5 separate regions of the Homo sapiens genome follow, and all the other regions are linked to region 4. Evidence: fine-mapped expression QTL. A gene starts in region 4. Each other region holds a variant in brackets. All regions are shown on one strand. Distances are from middle to middle.

Region 1 (4,015 bases), 100 kb after region 4:
TAAAATTTCTGTCTTTGCAGGTTGAAACAGTCAAACACTGGTCATGTCATATGTTACACCCTGAAATTTGTGTACTTTGTTAAAGTCCGCCTGCTCTATTGATTGCATCCTAAGAGAGGGCCAACTGAGGCTGCTTGGTGCCCCACTGGGTACCCCAGAAAAATACGTGAAAAATATTGAGTAGGCTATGAAAGCCTTCATGTCCTCTCTTCTTTTTAATTAGTTTCTTTAATTTAAATGTTCTTTCATTACATAAGTAATCTATTCTCCTTGGTGAAGACGTGGCAAACACAAACAAGCAAATGTTTAAAATAAAAACACTCGTATACCATGAGTTAATCTGGGACTATGCCCCTTCCAGATGTTTTTTAATTTTCTCTTTCTTTCTTCCTTCCCTTCTTTCTTTCTTTTTCTGTTTCTTTTCTTTTCTGAGACAGGGTCTTGTTCAGTTGCCCCGGCTGAAGTGCAGTGGCAAGATCATGGCTCACTGCAACCTCAACTTTCTGGCCTCAAGTAATCCTCCCACCTCAACCTCCTAAGTTGGGAGGGACTACAGGCATGCACCACCATGCCTGGCTAATTTTTTTATTTTTTGTAGAGGCAGGGTTCCCCTATGTTGCCCAGGCTGGTCTCAAACTCCTGGGATCAAACAATCCTTCTGCCTCAGCCTCCCAAAGTCCTGGGATTACAGGCATGAGCCACTGTGCCAGGCCCAAATGTTTTATTAAAAATGCAATGATGCTATTCATATCATTTGTCAACTAGCTTTTCATGCTTAAAAATATATATTGTGGCCACCTGTCCTTGTTGGCAAGATAGTTCTGGATCACACTTGTTAAACACTGTGATATTCTAGTTTATGGATGGTCTAGAATACTTTTTTTTTTTGAGACAGACTCTAGCTCTGTTACCCAGGCTGGAGTGCAATGATGCGATCCTGGCTCACTGCAACCTCCACCTCCTGGGTTCAAGCAATTCTTCTGCCTCAGCCTCCCGAGTAGCTGGCATTACAGGCAAGCACCACCACGCTTGGCTAATTTTGTATTTTTAGTAGAGACAGGAGTTTCACCATGTTGGTCAGGCTGGTCTCGAACTCCTGACCTCAGGTGATCCACCCACCTCGGCCTCCCAAAGTGCTGGGATTACAGGCATGAGCCACCACACCTGGCCCTCTGATACATTATTAATGAATCTCCTAAGGCTGGACAGTAAGGTTGCTTCTGATTTTTTTCTGTGCTGAGGCCTGTGCTGCAGAGCCGTGACAGGGTTGGACTTCTGCGCAGCTCCTGATCACTTTGTTAAAGTCGCACCTTTGCAGGGGAGTGTCTAGGCCAGAAGCCACTCGCTTATGACTTTGGACACATGTTTCCAGGTTGCTGTCCTGGAAGTTCACACTGATTTACGCTCCTCTCAGTTTTCTTGAAGCTGACCAAGTCCTTTGCAAAGTGTAATGTGCAGGGAGGCAGAGGCCTTTCTAAGTCTGTCTGCCCTTCCATCCCTAGAAGAGAGAAGGCTTCTGCCAGCTCCTGCAGCAGATGAAGAACAAGCACTCAGAGCAGCCGGAGCCCGACATGATCACCATCTTCATCGGCACCTGGAACATGGGTGGGTCCGCGCGCCCCCTCCCTGCAGTCACCCCCTCTGCTTCTGCTTTCCTGACTCAGGCATCCTCAAGGTGGGGTGGAGTGACGACATCCATGTCCCCTTCCTTCCTGCCCC[A/T]GGGCCCTGCCCCTAAGCCCCAGCCCACCCGCACAACCTCCTTCCTGAGGAATTCCACCCTTTTCCTGAGATGATGGGTAAGAAAAACGAGCTTTGGGACTATCGTACCCCAAGAGCAGCTGGCGTGGGTTACTCTGTATGTCTAAATTGGAAAGTTTTAGGGAAAGAGTCTGAATATCTAGGTGAAGGGGCTCATGGGAACCCTGCCAGCCCTAGGCAGCTCACCAAGGGGCCCCAGGCCTGAGAGAAAGAAGTCCACCCTGAGTAGGGTTGCCAGATTTATCAGGAGAGAGACAGAGAGAGACAGAGAGATAGGTACGTAGACAAAGGATGCCCAGTTAAATTTTAACTTCATAGAAACAATTTTTTTTAGTATATGTTTAGCTACAAACAAATAAATACTAAATATATATGCTCATAGACATTATGCTGAATATATAGTATATATACATATGCTAAATAAGTGTAATTATTATATTAAATATGAATTATACTAAGTAATATTAGTTTAAGCATACAGCTAATAATATACTAAATATATGCTAAATATATTTTGTATTAAACATATATATTGTGTATTTACTAAACACATGCACTCTACTAAATATAAATAATACTAAATAATTTTTTAGTGTAAGTGTTCAGGTAGAAATAAATTAGATAGAAGACATCCAGATAAACTTATTCTAAAAACTACCAGTTTATCTGAAATTGGAATTTCACTGGGTGTCGTGTGTCCCCTACCCTTGTCCTGAGAGGAGTCTGGGAGGAAGAGGGTGAGCAGTGGCTGGCAGGGGCCTCCTGGAAGTGAAGTGACAGCTTGTCACTCGTGTCCCAGGGCCACAGCAGCCGTGGAGTAGAGCCCGGGCCAGTGCCCCAGGGGGTCACTTGTCCCCTTCGGTCCCTTTCAGTGTTTCTAATAAGAGACAATAGTCTGCCTGATCTCCTCCCTCTGGACATGGTCAGGGATGTCCATGACACAAGGGCAGGGGTGCCCTTCCCACAGAAGAGTATGGAAGGAGCCAGCTGAGGCCATGCCGCAGGAGGGCCGGGGACCCACCAGCCCGGGGGTTCGGGCACCCACTTTGAGCCTCTTGGGGGAGCAGAATTTAGCCACAGTCCATTTACTCCAATGCTTGGCTTCTTTGCACTTGTAAGGCAAGAAGCTCATCTCTTTGAGGAACAAAGTTTGCTCATCCTTCAAGGGCATTGTAGGGAGAACCGTTCAAAATTTCTTGATTGAGCTTCTTCAACTCAGTTTTGAAATGGGAATGCGGAGGAGTTTCCACACTCTCCCGTTTCTCTGGCTCACACCCAGGCATCCCTCCGCTCTGGGCTGGGATCTGTCTTGCAAGGGAGACTTTGTTGTCTCCCAACAATGGGTTAGAACCCGCCATCTAAAACTTGTCAGTTCCCTTGGCTGTCTTGAGAATAGGATGTGAGTTCCTTGAGGGACAGGACTGTGTCTCAATTATCGTAGCCTCAAAGTGCAGGACAGTGTCTGACATCAGGGAATCTTCTGGTGTTTCTATACCTTGAAACTTGACATTACGTTTAAAAAGAGGCTTAACTGAGCTCTAGCCCTAACCGACATCCTGGGTGAGGTTGGCGCCCAGGCCTCCATTGCAGGCATTTCTTTGGGCTGCCTGGATGGTCTTGTGTAATGACGTGACCTCCCTCACACTCCCGCCCTCTGTTTTGAATTCTCCTAATGCTTTGACTCGATGTGCCTTTGACTCACTTGGTGTTGGGTTTTGCTGTTGAAGGTAACGCCCCCCCTCCCAAGAAGATCACGTCCTGGTTTCTCTCCAAGGGGCAGGGAAAGACGCGGGACGACTCTGCGGACTACATCCCCCATGACATTTACGTGATCGGCACCCAAGAGGACCCCCTGAGTGAGAAGGAGTGGCTGGAGATCCTCAAACACTCCCTGCAAGAAATCACCAGTGTGACTTTTAAAACAGTGAGCAGCTGGCTGCACGCTGGGTGGGCTTCCGGGATAGAATCTTTGCTCGGCTGGGCTGTCTCAGAGGCAAGGGTGGGCTCAGCCTATCAGCTCTCAGTTTTCAAGGATGTCTGGAGGCCCCCACTGAGAGATGCGTCTGTATTCAGAAATAAATGGGATCTGTGGGGTATTGCTGAAAACCACTGAGTCCTCTATCTTCCCACCCTTGGTCAGCCCCGGTTCTCATCTTTAGGATGTTTTGTCTCGCCTATCAAGCATCGCTGGGAGTCCCCCGAAGGGTTGGGATTACAGACAGGATACCCCATACCCAGGGGCTGCGGCTGGGGCTGG
Region 2 (4,015 bases), 120 kb after region 4:
TGAGGCTATTTTATAGTTAACATTTTCTTATAAGTAGGAATACACTCTAATGATAAATAATATCGTAAACACGGAAATGAGTGACAGTTGTTTATCATTATCAAATATTATGTACTGAACAGAATTGTACTGTTATGCTTTTACACAGCTGGCAGTGCAGTGGGCTGGTTTGCACCAGCATCCCCAGAAGCATGTGAGTAATGTGTTGCGCTGTGACGTGATGACAGCTACAGCAGCACTACGTGATGGGGATTTTCCAGCTCCATTATAATTTTGTAGGACCTCTGTCCTATATGCAGTCCATTACTGTGGTACATGACTATTTGTGGAGCCCCACGGGTAATTCTCAGAGGCAGCTGATGCCGAGAACTGCAATGTTAAGAAGTAACTGTTTAGGCTGGGCACAGTGGCTCATGCCTGTATTCCCAACACTTTGGGAGCTGAGGCAGGTAAATCATTTGAGGCCAGGAGTTTGAGACCAGCCTGGCCAACATGGCGAAACCCCATCTCTACTGAAAATACAAAAATTAGCCAGGTGTGGTGGCGCACTCCTGTGATCCCAGCTACTCAGAAGGCTGAGTCAGGAGAATTGTTTGAATCCGGCAGACAGAGGTTGCAGTGAGCTGAGATTGCCCCACTGCACTCCAGCCTGGGCAACAGAGTGAGACCCTGTCTCAAAAAAAAAAAAAAAAAAAGGACTTAACTAACTGTTAGGCAGAATCAATGAAAACTAAAAATGCACCTATTCTATGATTCAGTAATTCCGCTTTGGTGTGTGTTCAAGAGAAATTTGTATATTTGTTCACCAAAAATAGGTATAAGAATGTTTAGCCGGGCATGGTGGCTCACGCCTATAATCCCAGAGCTTTGGGAGGCCAAAGCAGGTGAATCACCTGAAGTCAGGAGTTCCAGACCAGTCTGGCCAACACCGCGAAACCCGTCTCTATACAAAATTAGCCGGGCATGCTGATGGGCGCCTGTAATCCCAGCTACTCGGGAGGCTGAGGCAGGAGAATCACTGGAACCTGGGAGGTGGAGATGGTGGTGAGCCGAGACCATGCCACTGCACTCCAACCTCAGCAACAGGGCGAGACTCCATCTCAAAAAAAAAAAAAAAAAAAAAAATGAATGTTTATGGCAGCCTTGTTTGTAATCTTCAAAACTGAAAACAACCCTATGTCCATTAACAGTAGAGTAGATAAATGTGATACTTATAAACAATGGAACTTTTATAAGCAACGAAGTGGCTGAAGGAGTCCAACATAAAAGAGTATCTACTGAGTGAGTCCATTTATATACGTTCATATAAATTAATCAATGGAGATGTTAGTCACACTAATGCTCACCTTTAGGAGGCTCTGGTATTGACAAGGAAGGCTTATGAGGGAAGCTTTAGGATGATGGCGGTTTTCTGTATCTTGCTCTGGGTAGTGGGTAAGTGGGTTTATACAAACCTAAAAATGCATGGGACTGTACACTTATGGTTAGTACACTTTATGTAAGTTGTACCTAAAGTTTTTTTTAAAAAGTGAATGGTTCAGAAGTAGAGAGAATGAAAATAAAAACTTTTGTTTTTTTTTTTTTGAGATGGAGTTTTGCTCTTATTGCCCAGGCTGGAGTGCAGTGGCGCAATCTCAGCACACCACAACCTCCACCTTCTGGGTTCAAGCGATTCTCCTGCCTCAGCCTCCTGAGTAGCTGGGATTACAGGCATGCGCCACCATGCCCGGGTAATTTTGTATTTTTAGCAGAGATGGGGTTTCGCCATGTTGGTCAGGGTGGTCTCGAACTCCCGACCTCAGGTGATCCACCCGCCTTGGCCTCCCAAAGTGCTGGGATTACAGGCATGAGCCACCATGCCCAGCCTGAAAATAGAACATTCTTGAAAGAAAATTGGTAAAAGGAAGAAAAGAGAAAAGTAATTGAAGGAGATGACAGAGATAAGCTCTTTCAGGATGAGTTCCTTTATGTTTGTAGACAGAGAAGAAAGAGCTAGAACATGAGGGGATAAGGATATTGATAAAAGAGGGTTGTTATTGCCAGTTTACCTTGTCTATCCCACCTAATGGACATCTTGCTCATCATTGCAGCCTGAGGCCCTGGAGAGGGCTTGTCATATAGTATTAATAGATACTGTTTGAGTGATTGGATAAGTAGGTAGACGGGTGTGTGAA[C/T]GGTCAATGGATGAGTGGATGGGTGCGATGGATGGATGGATGGATGGATGGATGGATGGATGGATGGATAGGCGAATGGATAGGTGGGTGGGTGGGTGGATGGATGGATGGATAGATAGATGGATGTGTGGGTGGGTGAATGGATGGATGGATGGATGGGTGGATAGGTGGATGGATGGGTGGATAGGTGGGTGAATGGGTGAATGGATGATAGCCATATGGTGGTAGTGTGGATGATGATGATGATGATGATGATGTGTGGTGTGAGGATGATAATGGATTGATGATGTGTGGGTTGGTGGAGGATGATAAATGATGATAGGTGGATGGGTGGATGGATGGATGGCTAGTCGGTGGGTGGATGGATGGGTGGGTGGGTGGATGGATGAGTGGATGAATAGGTGGATGGGTGGATGGATGAAATGGACAGGTAGTTGGATGGATGGGTGGATGGATAGATGAATGAATAGGTAGATAAGTGGATGGGTGGATGGATGAATGAATAGGTGGGTAGGTGGATGGATGGATGGGTGAATGAGTAAAGATGGGTAGATGGGGAGATGAAAAGGTGGACAGATGGATGAATAGAACTGGGGGTGGAAGCTGAAGTGTGTTATTAAAGTAAGTGACTGCAGAAAGTGAGCAGAGACTGAGCTGAAAATACAGGTGGGGGTTCATCTGAGTCAGAAAGAAAGTAAGAGAAGGTGAAGATACAAGGGATACTGAAGTAGTCAGGAGGATATGTGAGGGAATACAGCAAGGTGAGTTATCTTAGTCTAAAGAAGAAGGCGTGGCAGTGGAGTCTGGACTTGAGCCATGTGAAAAAAGTTTAAAGCCACCTACAGGGAAATTCTATAAAAAGCCAACAGCCGATGAATTTGAGGATTACAGAGGCCACCAGTTAATCTGTTCTTTTACTGATTAAAAAAATAATAATAAGAGGCATTTTTTAAAGCCTATGACTTTGATTTGCAGATGAAGTACAACTTGCCTTCCTGGTGTGACCGAGTCCTCTGGAAGTCTTATCCCCTGGTGCACGTGGTGTGTCAGTCTTATGGTGAGTTCAAACACTGGGGAAAGCAGAACAGGATCAGAGAATGGCACCAAGCTGGGAGGTGTGACTGCCCTAAAATCTAAGGGCTTCAGTCTGTTGATGTGTCAAAGGGAGGAATTCACTGTAACCCTAATCAGGCGACCTGGAAATGTTGATGCTTCCCTGCCTGTCTTGTGCTGCCACCTAATCCATATCCCCTGCTTTAGGAGACATTTGAATTATAGAGCACTTTTTTTCTTTTTCTTTTTGAGACGGAGTCTCACTCTGTCACCCAGGCTGGAGTACAATGGCATGATCTCATCTCACCACAACTTCTACCTCCTGGGTTCAAGCGATTCTCGTGCCACAGCCTCCCCAAGCAGCTGGGATTACAGGCTCCTGCCACCATGCCTGGCTAATTTTTGTATTTTTAGTAGAGACGGGGTTTCACCATGTTGGCCAGGCTGGTTGCAAACTCCTGACCTCAGGTGGTCAGCCCACCTCGGCCTCCCAAAGTGCTGAGATTACAGGCATGAGCCACCGCGGCCGACCCGGAGCACTTTTTTAAAAATTCAGTTTTATTTCTTTTGAAAAGAACATATTAAGTGTGAACCATATGAAAGTGTTTTTGTAGGTCAGAAATAGTTATTGGAAATTCATATGGCTCAAACTAATACATGTCGCAAGTGTGTACACATATATACACATATATATTTGGGGAGGTTTAACCATAAATTGAGTTAAATTGATTTTTAGAAGGCATAACATGTAATATTAAAATAAATAATTATGGAATAAGTTATCAAAA
Region 3 (4,015 bases), 25 kb after region 4:
GCTGCTGCCTTTGAAATGGCCCCTCTTTGGGAAAGTAAGGAAGAGTCTGAGGTCCTGCAAGCCGCCCTCATGGGCCAGCTCCAGGGTGGCCAGGGAGGCCTGGAGTGGCCTCAGACGTGTCGCATAAATGGCTGTCTCAAACCTAGGGCCACAGTTGAAGCAAAAGAGGCCCTTCGGCTCCACCCTACAACCTTTTGGCCCTTGCGTCCTTTCTAACATCCTTCCCACCGAGAGGAATAAAGCAGAAAATTAGAACTACCCATAATCCCCTATCACATCAATGTTCTCTGTGAACTTCCTGTCTTTTCTTGAGGTTGAGATTGTATCTAGGATATTGATTGTTTCAGTCAAGATGGGAGCACCCCCAGGTGTTTTTCTGTTTTGTTTTGTTTTGTTTTTGAGACAGGGTCTTGTTCTGTAGACCAGGCTGGAGTGCAGTGGCGCGACCTCGGCTCACTGCAACCTCTGCTCCCAGGCTCAAGCAATTCTCCCACCTCAGTCTCCTGAGTAGCTGAGATTACAGGTGTGCACCACTATGCCCAGCTAAATTTTGTATTTTTCTGTAGAGATAGGGTTTCACTATGTTGCCCAGGCTGGTCTCAAACGCCTGGGCTCAAGTGATCCACCCGCCTCAGCCTCCCAAAGTGTTGGGATTACAGGCGTGAGCCACCATGCCCAGCCACACTCCCAGGTTTTCATGCAAGTTTAGATGAAGAGTTAGAAAATATCTATCTCATAGACCCTTTCATTATTCTTTCCCGATTTGGAAGAAAAAATCCAGTGGTCTGAGCCATTCCGGTGAGTTCTAAAGAAGAGACACTTGTGACTCAAGTCCCTGGTCCCTGACGGTGGCTGTCACGTATCTCCGGGCGACATGGCTTTTGGAGAGGGAAAACAAAACAACTTTCTAAAAGCTGTTCCGTCACAAGCATCCGGGAGGTGAACGGTTGAGCCATTGTTATTAAGCTCAGGAAGCGAGTGGCAGCTGTTATTGTTCTGAGTGGTCACTGAGTGAAGTAAAGATTCCGTCTGAGCCGCCGGGCAAAGGATGTGGCTCTAACACACTTCCTGAAGTTGCACAACAAGGGGCACAGAAAAGGTTCAGGGCATAGAAGCCTAGCACGGCCAGGGCTGCCCTGTGTGGGCTCCACAGCCATGCCAAGGACAATGGGCCCCAAGGGGGTCCGTGCTGGTGGAGGGGTTCCTTTATGCTCTGACACTCACCTTCTAGAAGCCTGCATTTTGAATTGGTTTTTCTGTCTACTGCAGAATATGGACAGATCTATTTTCCAAGCCTCTGAATATCTCAAAACATCTTTAGTTGTCTACACATTCAAGAGTAATTTGATAGATATAAAATTCTTGGAACCAACTGTTCGCTCAAAATCCTGTAAAAGGTACAGCACTACCTTCAAGAATGTAGTGTTACAGGCTGGGTGCAGTGGCTCACTCCTGTAATCCCAGCACTTTGGGAGGCTGAGGCAGGTGGATCACCTGAGGTCAGGAGTTTGGGACTAGCCTGGGCAACATGGTGAAACCCCGTCTCTACTAAAAATGCAAAACTTAGTCGGGTGTGGTGGTGCATGCCCGTAGTCACAGCTACTCCGGAGGCTGAGGTGGGAGGATCGCTTGAACCTGAGAGGCAGAGGCTGCAGCGAGCTGAGGTCTCACCACTGCACTCCAGCTGGGTGACAGAGCAAGACTGTCTCAAAGAAAAAAAAAAAAAAGAATGTAGCGTTATGAATAGTTCCGAGTACAAAATCCAAGGCCAAACTTGTGCTGGTTCCTATAGAGGCGACCCATTTTTTTCTTTTTTTCTACTTTGAAGCCGGTGGGAATTCTTTTCCAGTGTTGTCATTTTCCTTTCATTGATAGTACCTGCAATGTGTTCGGCTTGTTCACTTTGCAAACTCTGTTCTTTGACACAAAAGACCTTTCTTCTGTTAGGTCTTTGAGTAAGTTTTTATTCCAGCTCTTCTGGCATCTTTCTTCTAATCCCCTGAGAAAGCCAAGCCTCCCCCCGTTTTCTAGCCCCCTGGGGTACACATGCCTTTGTGACTGAGCAGCCCCTCCCTCTTGTGTGGCTGCAAGATCCCTAATCCCTTCCCCAGTCTGTCAGAGAATTCTGGAAAGAGTATCCATGCCATTTGTCATCTCTACCTCCAAATGACTGTCTTTATTTTCTCCCCATCCCCACTAGCCATTTTGTCCTTGTTTCTCCATGTTCCAGAGCCTTCTGGTTCACCTTGCCCCAGATCATGGGCCTGTTTCCTGTCTTTGTTACCCAAAGCGGTCTAGAACTAACATCAACATGCACCATGTAGCCGATAAGTTTAGACTGGGGAATG[G/A]GATGCAAGTGTAACCAATGAGATGTGAAGAGAAGGGCTTTGTGGGCTTCTAGTAAAGGTCTGTTTGTCTTAAAAACAGACATAGGGATAAGATAGCCTCTTTCTTTCTTTCTTTCTTTCTTTCTTTCTTTCTTTCTTTCTTTCTTTCTTTCTTTCTTTCTTTCTTTCCTTTTTGAGACAGAGTTTCGCTCTTGTTGCCCAGGGTGGAGGGCAATGGCATGATCTCGGCTCACCACAACCTCCGCCTCCTGGGTTCAAGTGATTCTCCTGCCTCAGCCTCCCAAGTAGCTGGGATTACAGGCACCTGCCACCATGCCGGGCTAATTTTTGTATTTTTAGAAGAGATGGGACTTCACTATGTTGGTCAGGCTGGTCTCGAACTCCTGACCTCAGGTAATCTGCTCGCCTTGGCCTCCCAAAGTGCTGGGATTACAGGTGTGAGCCACCGCACCCAGCCAAGATAGCCTCTTTCCTACCTTTGGAAGCTGCCATAGGATGTGATAGCTGGGTCTCTGCTGCTGCCTTGTAACCATGAGGAGAGGTAGCTGGCGAGTGAGGCCAACACACGGAAAGGAGAAGTGAACCTGGGTCCTGGATGATGCCCTTGAATTTGCTGAACAGAATGAAGCAACCTGGGATCTGCCCTCCTCTAGATTTTCTGTTTTGTGAGTTAATTAATTTCTTTTTGCTCAAGTTAGTTGAGTTAGGGTTTTCTAACAGCTAAAAGTGTCCTAACTTACAAAGGTTTAAACTATCCCAGGGGAATTTCAAAGCAGAAAAGTGAAAATTTCAAATTGAATATCGAGTTTCACTGCACCAAATGCCCATGAGCCACGGTCTGACAACACAGTCTCTGGGTCTTCCTTCTCCTTAGCCTGTGTCGTGTTTCTGGGACCTGCTCCAGCCCTGTCCCAGACATTCCTAATGACTTATGTTCCTGTCAGACATCCTTGGGCTCAACATCTCTTTCTCTAACCCTGACCAGAAAAAGCACAAAAATCAATCAGTATTTTAACAATGTCTGTGCACTGGGGAGGCATGATTTCTTGCTTATTGCAGGATGGTTTCGCTTCTCATCTTGACTTTGCCCTTCGAGATCAGCTTCCGGGTCTAATTGTGTCTGTCAGATTTGCAAGAGGCCACTTCGGGTTTGCCAAATAGAAGAAAGTCTTTCTGAGAGGCCTCACTTGATCACCCCAGAAAAATAGTCACCCCACCCTTCACCTGTTGCTCTTTAACCCCTTACCCTCCTTTCTTTTCTTTGTGGCACTTGTGACTACCTGATTTTATATTATATTTATTTATTTATTTATTTTTTTGAGACGGAGTCTCACTCTGTCACCAGGCTGGAGTGCAGTGGCACAATCTCGGCTCAGCTCACTGCAACCCCTGCCTCCCGGGTTGAAGTGATTCTCCTGCCTCAGCCTCCCGAGTAGCTGGGACTACAGGCACATGCCACCACACCCAGCTAATTTTTGTGTTTTTAGTAGAGACAGGGTTTCACCATGTTGCCCAGGATGGTCTCGACCTCTTGACCTTGTGATCTGCCCGCCTCAGCCTCCCAAAGTGCTGGGATTACAGGTGTGAGCCACCATGCCCAGCCCTGAGGTATTTGAAAATATACATTTTTATATTGACTTATTTATCATCTATACTAGAACTATTCC
Region 4 (4,015 bases):
AAAAATCCACCCACCAAAAGGGCAGCTCTGATCTAGATACTGGGATTTCCTGAATGTGGAGGGCAGAAGGGTGGGGGACAAGCCAGCTGACCATGCTGGATAGATCAGGCAATTGGGTGGAAAAGGAAGCAAAGTTGGGATGGGCCTTAAAAATGAGGGAAGAGTGCCCGTGTGGCGTGTGTGCCAGGGGATCTCACTCTGTGGAATGGCAAGGACCGTGGGAATAGAGGTGTGAGAGGTGGGGGGCTGGGGGTTTGGGGGAAGCTCTCTAAGTAGGGCAGTCTTGGCATGGTAGGGGTCTCTAGAGATGAGTGGGTGGAGGTGTAAAGGGACCAGTATTGCAAATGGATCCTCCTGGTGGCGTGGTCCAGGACTTCATGGATGTTGGTGGAGGCCAGCAGGGAAGTGAGAAGGGTGTGAAGGTACACAATGGGAGCATAGGAGATGACCCCATAAGGAGGGGGTGGACAGGTGCTGAGTGGAGGCGTGGGTGGGGAATGAGAGGCCTCCACACTGGGCTGCTGCAGAGGTGGCGTGCTGCGGAAGGGCCGGAGCATGGAGGCCAGTTCCCATCACCACTCTATCCCCACGCCTGGCTCCCAGCCTGGCCAGAGGTCCTTGACTGGGAGTGCTTTGTCTGCCCTACAGACTCGCCTGCCATGTGTGTTGCTCAGCGGGGAGGTGCTGGGGGCCCTGTTCTGGGACAACCATCAGTGTGACACATGTTGAGCCCCTGGGCACATGTGAGCTCTTTTACGAGCTACGTCCTTCAAGTTAGACAAGAAGAAACCAAGGCCGAGAGAGAGAAGAAACTTGACCAGGTTCCCACAGCTTGAATGTGGTGGCGCTGCCTGGCTGGTGCCCCTTCCTGGAGGGAGTCTGTTGTCATGTCCTGGAGGCCAAGGCCTGGATGTGGGATGGTGGGGGCACTCTTTGTGCAGCGGGTCAACACGTGCCCCTTCGGCCTTGGTGGGCCGGACCCAAGGACGGAAGGTGCCCAGGTCTGGGGGCTGAGGGATGGGTGTCCACCGCAGAGCCCTCAGAAATGACTGGTCCTGGATGGCGGTCCCTGGAGAGGCAGCTCCTCTTTGAGTGGTGGGCATATGTGGCCATGCCCAGTCTTGGAGGCGGTGCAGTCCGACCGGCCACCCCGACTGCTGAGACGCAGGACTCAGCACCCAGTGTTGTCCTTGGCCAGGCGGCCAGCCTGCCCTGTGGGGCTTTGGGGTTCTCCTCTCCGAGCTTGTTTCCCCAGCATCCTGGAGAAGCCCAGGGAAAAACCCAGCCTATGTTCCCGCTGTAAACGGCCCACATCCCCTCCAAGCTCCCTTTGTGTGTCTCCAAGCTGGACTGCAGGGATCAGAGCTGTGCTGCCCGTGCAGCACCCACCCGCCCCTGGGAATGAGGGTAATGGGGTCACAGAGCCATCACTTGGACCTTGGCGCCCTCGGCTGGTGGCAGCCAAGGTCTCCCAGCACCCAGGCCGCTGGGAGTCTCTAAAGGGGAGGGGTGGGGCTCGACTGTCCCCTCCCCCTCAAGTTTGCTCTGTCCTGGGCAGGCCGTAGTCCCAGTTGAGAAGCTGTGCCCCCTTGGGTGTTTTGGAGGTTCAGGGTGGGTGCTGAAAAGCCCTGAGGGAGAGCAGAAGGCTCGGGGGCCTGTCTAGGGCATGGCATCCCACGTGGGTGTCAGCACGGCCGCAGAAGAACCACTTCTCTGGCCCACCCATGCCTGCTAGGCCATGCTTCTTCAGAAGTGGCCACAACTCTCCTGACGTCTCCAGAGCCGGTCATTCCACCCAGGGGGACTTCAGCTGCCACTGGACACTTCAATTGTACGCTGCGACCAGTTGCCAGGAAGGAGAGGGCTGGCAAGAGAGCCGCGGCAGCCGTGGCAGGGTGTAGGGGACGGTGGACGGCCAGGGCCCCCCCCTCTCTCTCTTTCTCTCTCTCTCTCTTGCTTGGTTTCTGTAATGAGGAAGTTCTCCGCAGCTCAGTTTCCTTTCCCTCACTGAGCGCCTGAAACAGGAAGTCAGTCAGTTAAGCTGGTGGCAGCAGCCGAGGCCACCAAGAGGCAACGGGCGGCAGGTTGCAGTGGAGGGGCCTCCGCTCCCCTCGGTGGTGTGTGGGTCCTGGGGGTGCCTGCCGGCCCGGCCGAGGAGGCCCACGCCCACCATGGTCCCCTGCTGGAACCATGGCAACATCACCCGCTCCAAGGCGGAGGAGCTGCTTTCCAGGACAGGCAAGGACGGGAGCTTCCTCGTGCGTGCCAGCGAGTCCATCTCCCGGGCATACGCGCTCTGCGTGCTGTGAGTACAACCTGCTCCCTCCCCGGGCACAGATATGACAGAGGGGCTTAGAGGGGGCCCAGCTTTGAGATGGGTTGTTCTTATGTCACAGGACAGAGTGATCTGACATGCACACTTCCCCGCCACCCTGTCATGGACCTTGTCCTTGGAGTTCAGAGAGCTGGTCTCATGGCAGGTTTTGCAGCCTTGGAGCTGTCAGAACCACTCTGAGGCCTGATGTTACACCCCAGCTTCCCATGAGCTGTATGGACCTTGTGGCTTCCTTGGAGTCTGGGGACCGAGAGAAGGGAGTTTGGGCTTTTGGAGCCAGGAGGAAGCTCAGGGCTCTGTGGAGGTGGGTGTGTTAGAGATCAGCTCAAAGATGCCCAGCTCAGAAACCCTGAGAAGAGCAAAGGTGGCAAGGGGGACCCTTCCTGGAGCACCCAGGCTTCGGGCCCCTGGAGGAAGCTGTTGTTTGGCGAGCCAAGAATATGGGGTGAGTTTAATCAAGAAAGGACTTTCCATTCAGTCAGAAGCTGCTTTCAGGGGCCTGAGAGCAGAGGAAGTCACCATTACCACCAGCGAGCAGCCTCTTCTCTCTCCTGAGCACTTGGCTGTGACCGCTGCCCACCCCCCACCCCCTCAATTTGGGTCTCTGTCACCATCAACTCCTCCCACTGCCCGGTTGGGGATGTTACTGAATGTACCAGCTGTGCTAACAATGGAGGAACCAGCCACTTGCTGAAGGTTCCTTTCTAAAACCCCCTTCCTGTCCAGCGTCTGAAGGAGGCCCTTGCCCTGCAGCTCTCGGTCTAATCATAGGGGGGCCTTGCCCTGCAGCTCTTGGTCTAATCATTTTGCCGGGGCCTCAGGCAGTGCCGGAGTGTAGTCAGGGAAATGTGTGTCCACCTGAACATCTCAAGTAGCATCCCTGGGCTGGCAGAAATGTTCCCCCGAGCAGCCAGGGCCTTGTGCTTCTCCAGGCAGGAGGGGAATTGGGTGATGAACCCAGACCTGTTTTGAATACTGACTCACAGCTGGGACCTGTCGTGCTAAGCATTTGTTAGCCCATTTCATCCTCACCACAACCTAAAGTGAAGGTCCTGTTAAAAGCCCCACTTTGCAGATGAGAAATCTGAGGCCCTGGCAGGTTAAGTGAGTGACAACAGTCAAAGCCACGGCCATCTGCCCCCAGAGGCTGCAGCTGAGACCAGCAGCCTGTGGCCCAACCTCTCCTGCTCCCAGTCCAGCGGGGCAGGCATGTAGCCTTGCAGGGCTGGAGAAAGAAGCAAGGGGAGCCACAGTGTTTACAGGGTCAGCTGGGGCACTGGAAACCAAGCCAGGCTCGCAGCTGGTCGCTGGCCTGTGCTGACAGTCTGCAGCCCCACCTCCAAAGACTGGTTTCCTGTGTCCCCTCTCTCATGCCTCAGGGGAAGGAACGCAGGCCCAGGCTGCCTGGACTTCCCCAGTGGGGACCTGCTGCTGCCGGGGCCTTAGAAGGAGCAGGAAGATTCTCTTAGGCCTCTCACAAGCCCAGTCTGACTCCACCTGGCCCATGTGGGTTACTTGGATTTCTCTCCTGGCCCAGTGGGATCTTGTCCTGGCTGTTTGGTGTTGGCTGAGCCGAGGGCTTCCAGGGCCCCATCTCATTAACCTTCAACACAGCCCTTTGACCAGGGCTTGCTTTGTGGTTGCTCAGGTTACAGACATGGGGCGTGGGTCTCTCTGACT
Region 5 (4,015 bases), 110 kb after region 4:
CAGATTGCCAGAGCTCAGTAGTTTGAGACCAACCTGGGCAACACGGTGAAACCTCGTCTCTACTAAAATACAAAAAATTAGCTGGGTGTGGTGGTGGGTGCCTGTAGTCCCAGCTACTCCTGAGGCAGAGACAGGAGAATTGCTTGAACCTGGGAGACGGAGGTTGCAGTAAGCAGAGATCGCGCCACTGCACTCCAGCCTGGGAGACAGAGTGAGACTCTGTCTCCAAAAAAAAAAAAAAAAAAAAGAAAGAAAGGAAGAAAAGAAAATGATGGGAGCCAAATAGATCATAAATAAATAGATTTATGATCAAAATAGATTACAATTTGATTTATTACAATCAATAGATCAAATTTTCTAGTAGCCACATTAAAAAGAAAACAAGTGAAATTAATTTCAATAATAGATTTTATTGAATTTCATACATCCAAAATACAATTATTTCAATAGATATTTAATGTAAAAGGTTATTAGATATTTTACAGTCTGTGTTTCTTACCAAGGCCACAATTCCAATGTGTATTTTACACTCACAACCTGTCTCATTTTGTACCAGCCACATTTCAGGTGTTTGATAGTCACATGTGGCCTGTGCCTGTATTGGACAGAGCAGGTTCTCACCTGCATGTGTCAGAATCACCTAGAGCAGGGGTTAACAAGCGTTTTCCATAGAAGGCCAGATGGTGAATATTCTAGGCTCTTTGGGCCACACAACTGTCACAATGCTTCAGCTCTGCCATCGTAGTCTGAAAGCAGCTACAGACAATCCAGAAGTCAATAGGCATGGCTGTGTTCCAGTAACGTGTTCTTTACGAACACTGAAATTTGAATTTCGTATTTTCATGAATGACAAAAGATGGTTTTTCTTTTGATTTGTTTCCAACCATTTACAAATGTAAAACCATTTGTAGCTGGCAGTGAGCCAGCATTTGCCCACCCCTGACACTGGAGGGCTTGTCAAACACAGATTACTGGGCCCCATCCCAGGATTTCAGATTCAGTAGGTCTGGGGTGGGGCTGAGAATCTGCCCTTCCATGAAGTTCCCAGGTGATGTGCAGCTGCTGGTCCAGGGAACTCCCTTTGGGAACCACTGACCTAGAATAGATCAGAACGTTGGCAGAAAAAGGTATGATCTCAGTGTGGGTTTTTGGTCTCCCCAGGAAACTTGAGTTCACTGGGAGGGAGATCAGCCCACCCAGGCTGGAACCTTCTGAATCTTCCCAGGGCTTCTGGCTGCCCGCTTAGCACCCTGGTCACTTTAGAGAGAGATGCCGGGGGAGGATCGCAGCAGCCACCTTCCTCTGCCCCGCCGAGAAGGCTGAGGCTGCCGCCATCTGCACTGCTCCTGCATTTTCTCATCTCCCGCTCTCTGCCCAGCGGCTCCCACCCTGCACGACCCTGTTTCGCCCATCCCTTGCCAGCTCCTCACTCACTGCCCCTCTCACCCTGCCTTCGGGTGATTTCTGGCCCCTTGGCAAGTGTGTCTGTTTGATATTTTGATTCTTCTTTCTGCTCTTCTTTTTAGGGAACAAGGGAGCCGTGGGGGTGTCGTTCATGTTCAATGGAACCTCCTTAGGGTTCGTCAACAGCCACTTGACTTCAGGAAGTGAAAAGAAACTCAGGTAATGGAACTCCTTCCCCCCAAGAGTGTGCATTTGGGCTGTCTGCCCAGACACGCCTCACACCTTTAAGCACCAGAAGGACCTGCTCAGCTCCTGCCTTTGACCTTGTGGATGTCCTGTGGCCTTTCAGGGCCCACCACAGTCTCATCAAAGGCAACTGCAGCACC[A/C]TAGTGACCTCACGTGTGGAGGAATTTTGTCTGAAGGTCAGAAAAGATATTTCCTTGTGTCATTAGCCTGATGGACCGCTAACTAGCACTGTTTCTAAAGCAGAAAGCCTCCTCTGGGGCCTCCTTACAAATCCAAGCTGATCTTGCCTAGCTGGGGCCCAGGAATGAAGACAGCCATCTAGAATCTTCACTGTTCTGATTCTCTGCTGAGCAGATGCTGCTGCTCCTGGTCCCCTGCCCTCTGTACACCCAATGTGGCCTCAAATGCCCTTTGCATCCTGGCTGTGCCATATTTGCACACTAAGGAGTTCTGCTGCAGCAGGGCTGGAGGGCTAAGTCTCACTTCCCCCCACCTGCTATGCTCCTCGCCCCACACCTATGGCAGGAGTGACTTCCTGCCACAGTGGAGGGGGAACCAGTGACCCCGTGCTAGATGGCCGCTTTTTCCTTGCATTAGGCGAAACCAAAACTATATGAACATTCTCCGGTTCCTGGCCCTGGGCGACAAGAAGCTGAGTCCCTTTAACATCACTCACCGCTTCACGCACCTCTTCTGGTTTGGGGATCTTAACTACCGTGTGGATCTGCCTACCTGGGTAAGGGCTGCCCGCCTGGGGCTGGGGCTGGGGCTGTATGAGATGGAGGCTCCCTTGAGTCAGCTTGGGGCAGGTGGTCGTGGAGACATGTGAATCAAGTGGGCTGAGGCGGCTGCTCCCCTTGGGGGCTCAACGCTGTTTCCATTACTGAGCCTCAGCCGCTCCTCACGGTTCCCCTGTGCTCACACCCGGTTCCCATAACTGTCACAGCCACCCTGCCACCATCACTCTGCAGCCCGGGTCATCCAGCTGCCCGCCCCCAGCCCCGAAGCTTGTCAGGCCTGGATCAGCAGGGCTTCTCACCAGAGGCCCGGGCATGTTCTTGTTCCAGGAGGCAGAAACCATCATCCAGAAAATCAAGCAGCAGCAGTACGCAGACCTCCTGTCCCACGACCAGCTGCTCACAGAGAGGAGGGAGCAGAAGGTCTTCCTACACTTCGGTAAGAGCAGCAACCCCGGCTGGGAGCGGTGGCTCACACCTGTAATCCCAGCACTTTAGGAGGCCGAGGCGGGCGGATCACGAGATCAGGAGATGGAGACCATCCTGGCTAACACAGTGAAACCCCGTCTCTACTTAAAAAAATACAAAAAATTAGCCGGGTGTGGTGGCGGGTGCCTGTAGTCCCAGCTACTTGGGAGGCTGAGGCAGGAGGATGGTGTGAACCAGGGAGGCAGAGCTTGCAGTGAGCCAAGATCGCGCCACTGCACTCCAGCCTGGCCAACAAAGACAGACTCCGTCTCAAAAAAAAAAAAAAAAAAAGCAGCAGCCTCTCCTCTTGGAGCCTTTCCAGCCATCCTTTCGTCCCCTTTCCCCTGATTTCCTACCAGAAGAATAGGGAAAATTGGCCAGATGCAAAACCTGGGGAATCAGAATTAAAACGAAAGTCTCTCTGTTTCAGAGGAGGAAGAAATCACGTTTGCCCCAACCTACCGTTTTGAGAGACTGACTCGGGACAAATACGCCTACACCAAGCAGAAAGCGACAGGGGTGAGTCCTCTTCATAGACACCTTCCCTGCCCTCCATCTCCTCCCCGCTGGTGTCTGTTCCCAAAAGGTGAACAGAAAGTGTCTTCATCCATTAGGCAAAAAAAAAAGGAAAGAAAAAAATTAGAAAGCACATGTTGATTTGTGTTACAGAGTAAATGGGAAGCCACACTTGTGCACTGCTTTGAGCTGGGAAAATAACCCTTGTGATTTACCTTCTGTCCAGATACTCTAAGATGCTGAGAGGACTTTAAAGTATTATTTCCTTAACTGGGTTCTGAAGATCATTTTTTTAAAGTCCCGTGATCAAATATATTTACTAAACTGCTGAGTGAATTAACATTAAGCAGGTTTCTTCGCTGCAGGACTTATCAGAGCTTTTATGGGCCCAAGAGCACTGTGGTTCTCCATGAGGAAATCTGTATGCCAAACTCAGTTATTCATGGAACACCAATTAATGTCTTATGAGGCCACTTGTTTTCCAAGGAACAGTGTTTTGGGGAAAGATGCAATAAAATATGTATTCATTTGTTCAAAGATATTTCCTGATGGCCTATTATGGGTTAGGCACTCTCCTAGGTGATGGGAGAGCAAAGATGTCTTTTCCAGGGACTTCACAGTAGGAAAAACAGATATGCAACTAG

The links.
Region 1: its variant is fine-mapped to the expression of INPP5D in whole blood (TOPMed, PIP above 0.99).
Region 2: its variant is fine-mapped to the expression of INPP5D in blood mononuclear cells (TOPMed, PIP above 0.99). The same link has a PIP of 0.9 or more in skeletal muscle.
Region 3: its variant is fine-mapped to the expression of INPP5D in whole blood (TOPMed, PIP above 0.99).
Region 5: its variant is fine-mapped to the expression of INPP5D in whole blood (TOPMed, PIP above 0.99). The same link has a PIP of 0.9 or more in blood mononuclear cells.

The regions. Positions count from the first base shown.
Region 1 is chr2:233,160,222-233,164,236 of GRCh38, forward strand. INPP5D (inositol polyphosphate-5-phosphatase D) reads left to right here. Exons shown (of 27, transcript NM_001017915.3): 11 at 1,503-1,605; 12 at 3,486-3,682. Among named protein-coding and RNA genes, the nearest start is that of ATG16L1, 89 kb to the right of the region's middle. RefSeq lists an enhancer at 3,438-4,015. The variant A/T (reference allele first, on the strand shown) is at 1,720.
Region 2 is chr2:233,174,116-233,178,130 of GRCh38, forward strand. INPP5D (inositol polyphosphate-5-phosphatase D) reads left to right here. Exons shown (of 27, transcript NM_001017915.3): 18 at 3,150-3,231. Among named protein-coding and RNA genes, the nearest start is that of ATG16L1, 76 kb to the right of the region's middle. The variant C/T (reference allele first, on the strand shown) is at 2,175.
Region 3 is chr2:233,083,674-233,087,688 of GRCh38, forward strand. All of the region lies in intron 2 of INPP5D (inositol polyphosphate-5-phosphatase D), which reads left to right. Among named protein-coding and RNA genes, the nearest start is that of INPP5D, 25 kb to the left of the region's middle. RefSeq lists a silencer at 866-1,160 and an enhancer at 1,151-1,200. The variant G/A (reference allele first, on the strand shown) is at 2,349.
Region 4 is chr2:233,058,308-233,062,322 of GRCh38, forward strand. It overlaps INPP5D (inositol polyphosphate-5-phosphatase D), which reads left to right and starts at 2,035. Exons shown (of 27, transcript NM_001017915.3): 1 at 2,035-2,305. The coding sequence starts at 2,172. RefSeq lists enhancers at 1,710-1,989, 2,590-2,679, 3,766-4,015 and a silencer at 2,190-2,269.
Region 5 is chr2:233,167,779-233,171,793 of GRCh38, forward strand. It overlaps INPP5D (inositol polyphosphate-5-phosphatase D), which reads left to right. Exons shown (of 27, transcript NM_001017915.3): 14 at 1,527-1,623; 15 at 2,248-2,386; 16 at 2,718-2,826; 17 at 3,286-3,374. Among named protein-coding and RNA genes, the nearest start is that of ATG16L1, 82 kb to the right of the region's middle. The variant A/C (reference allele first, on the strand shown) is at 1,791.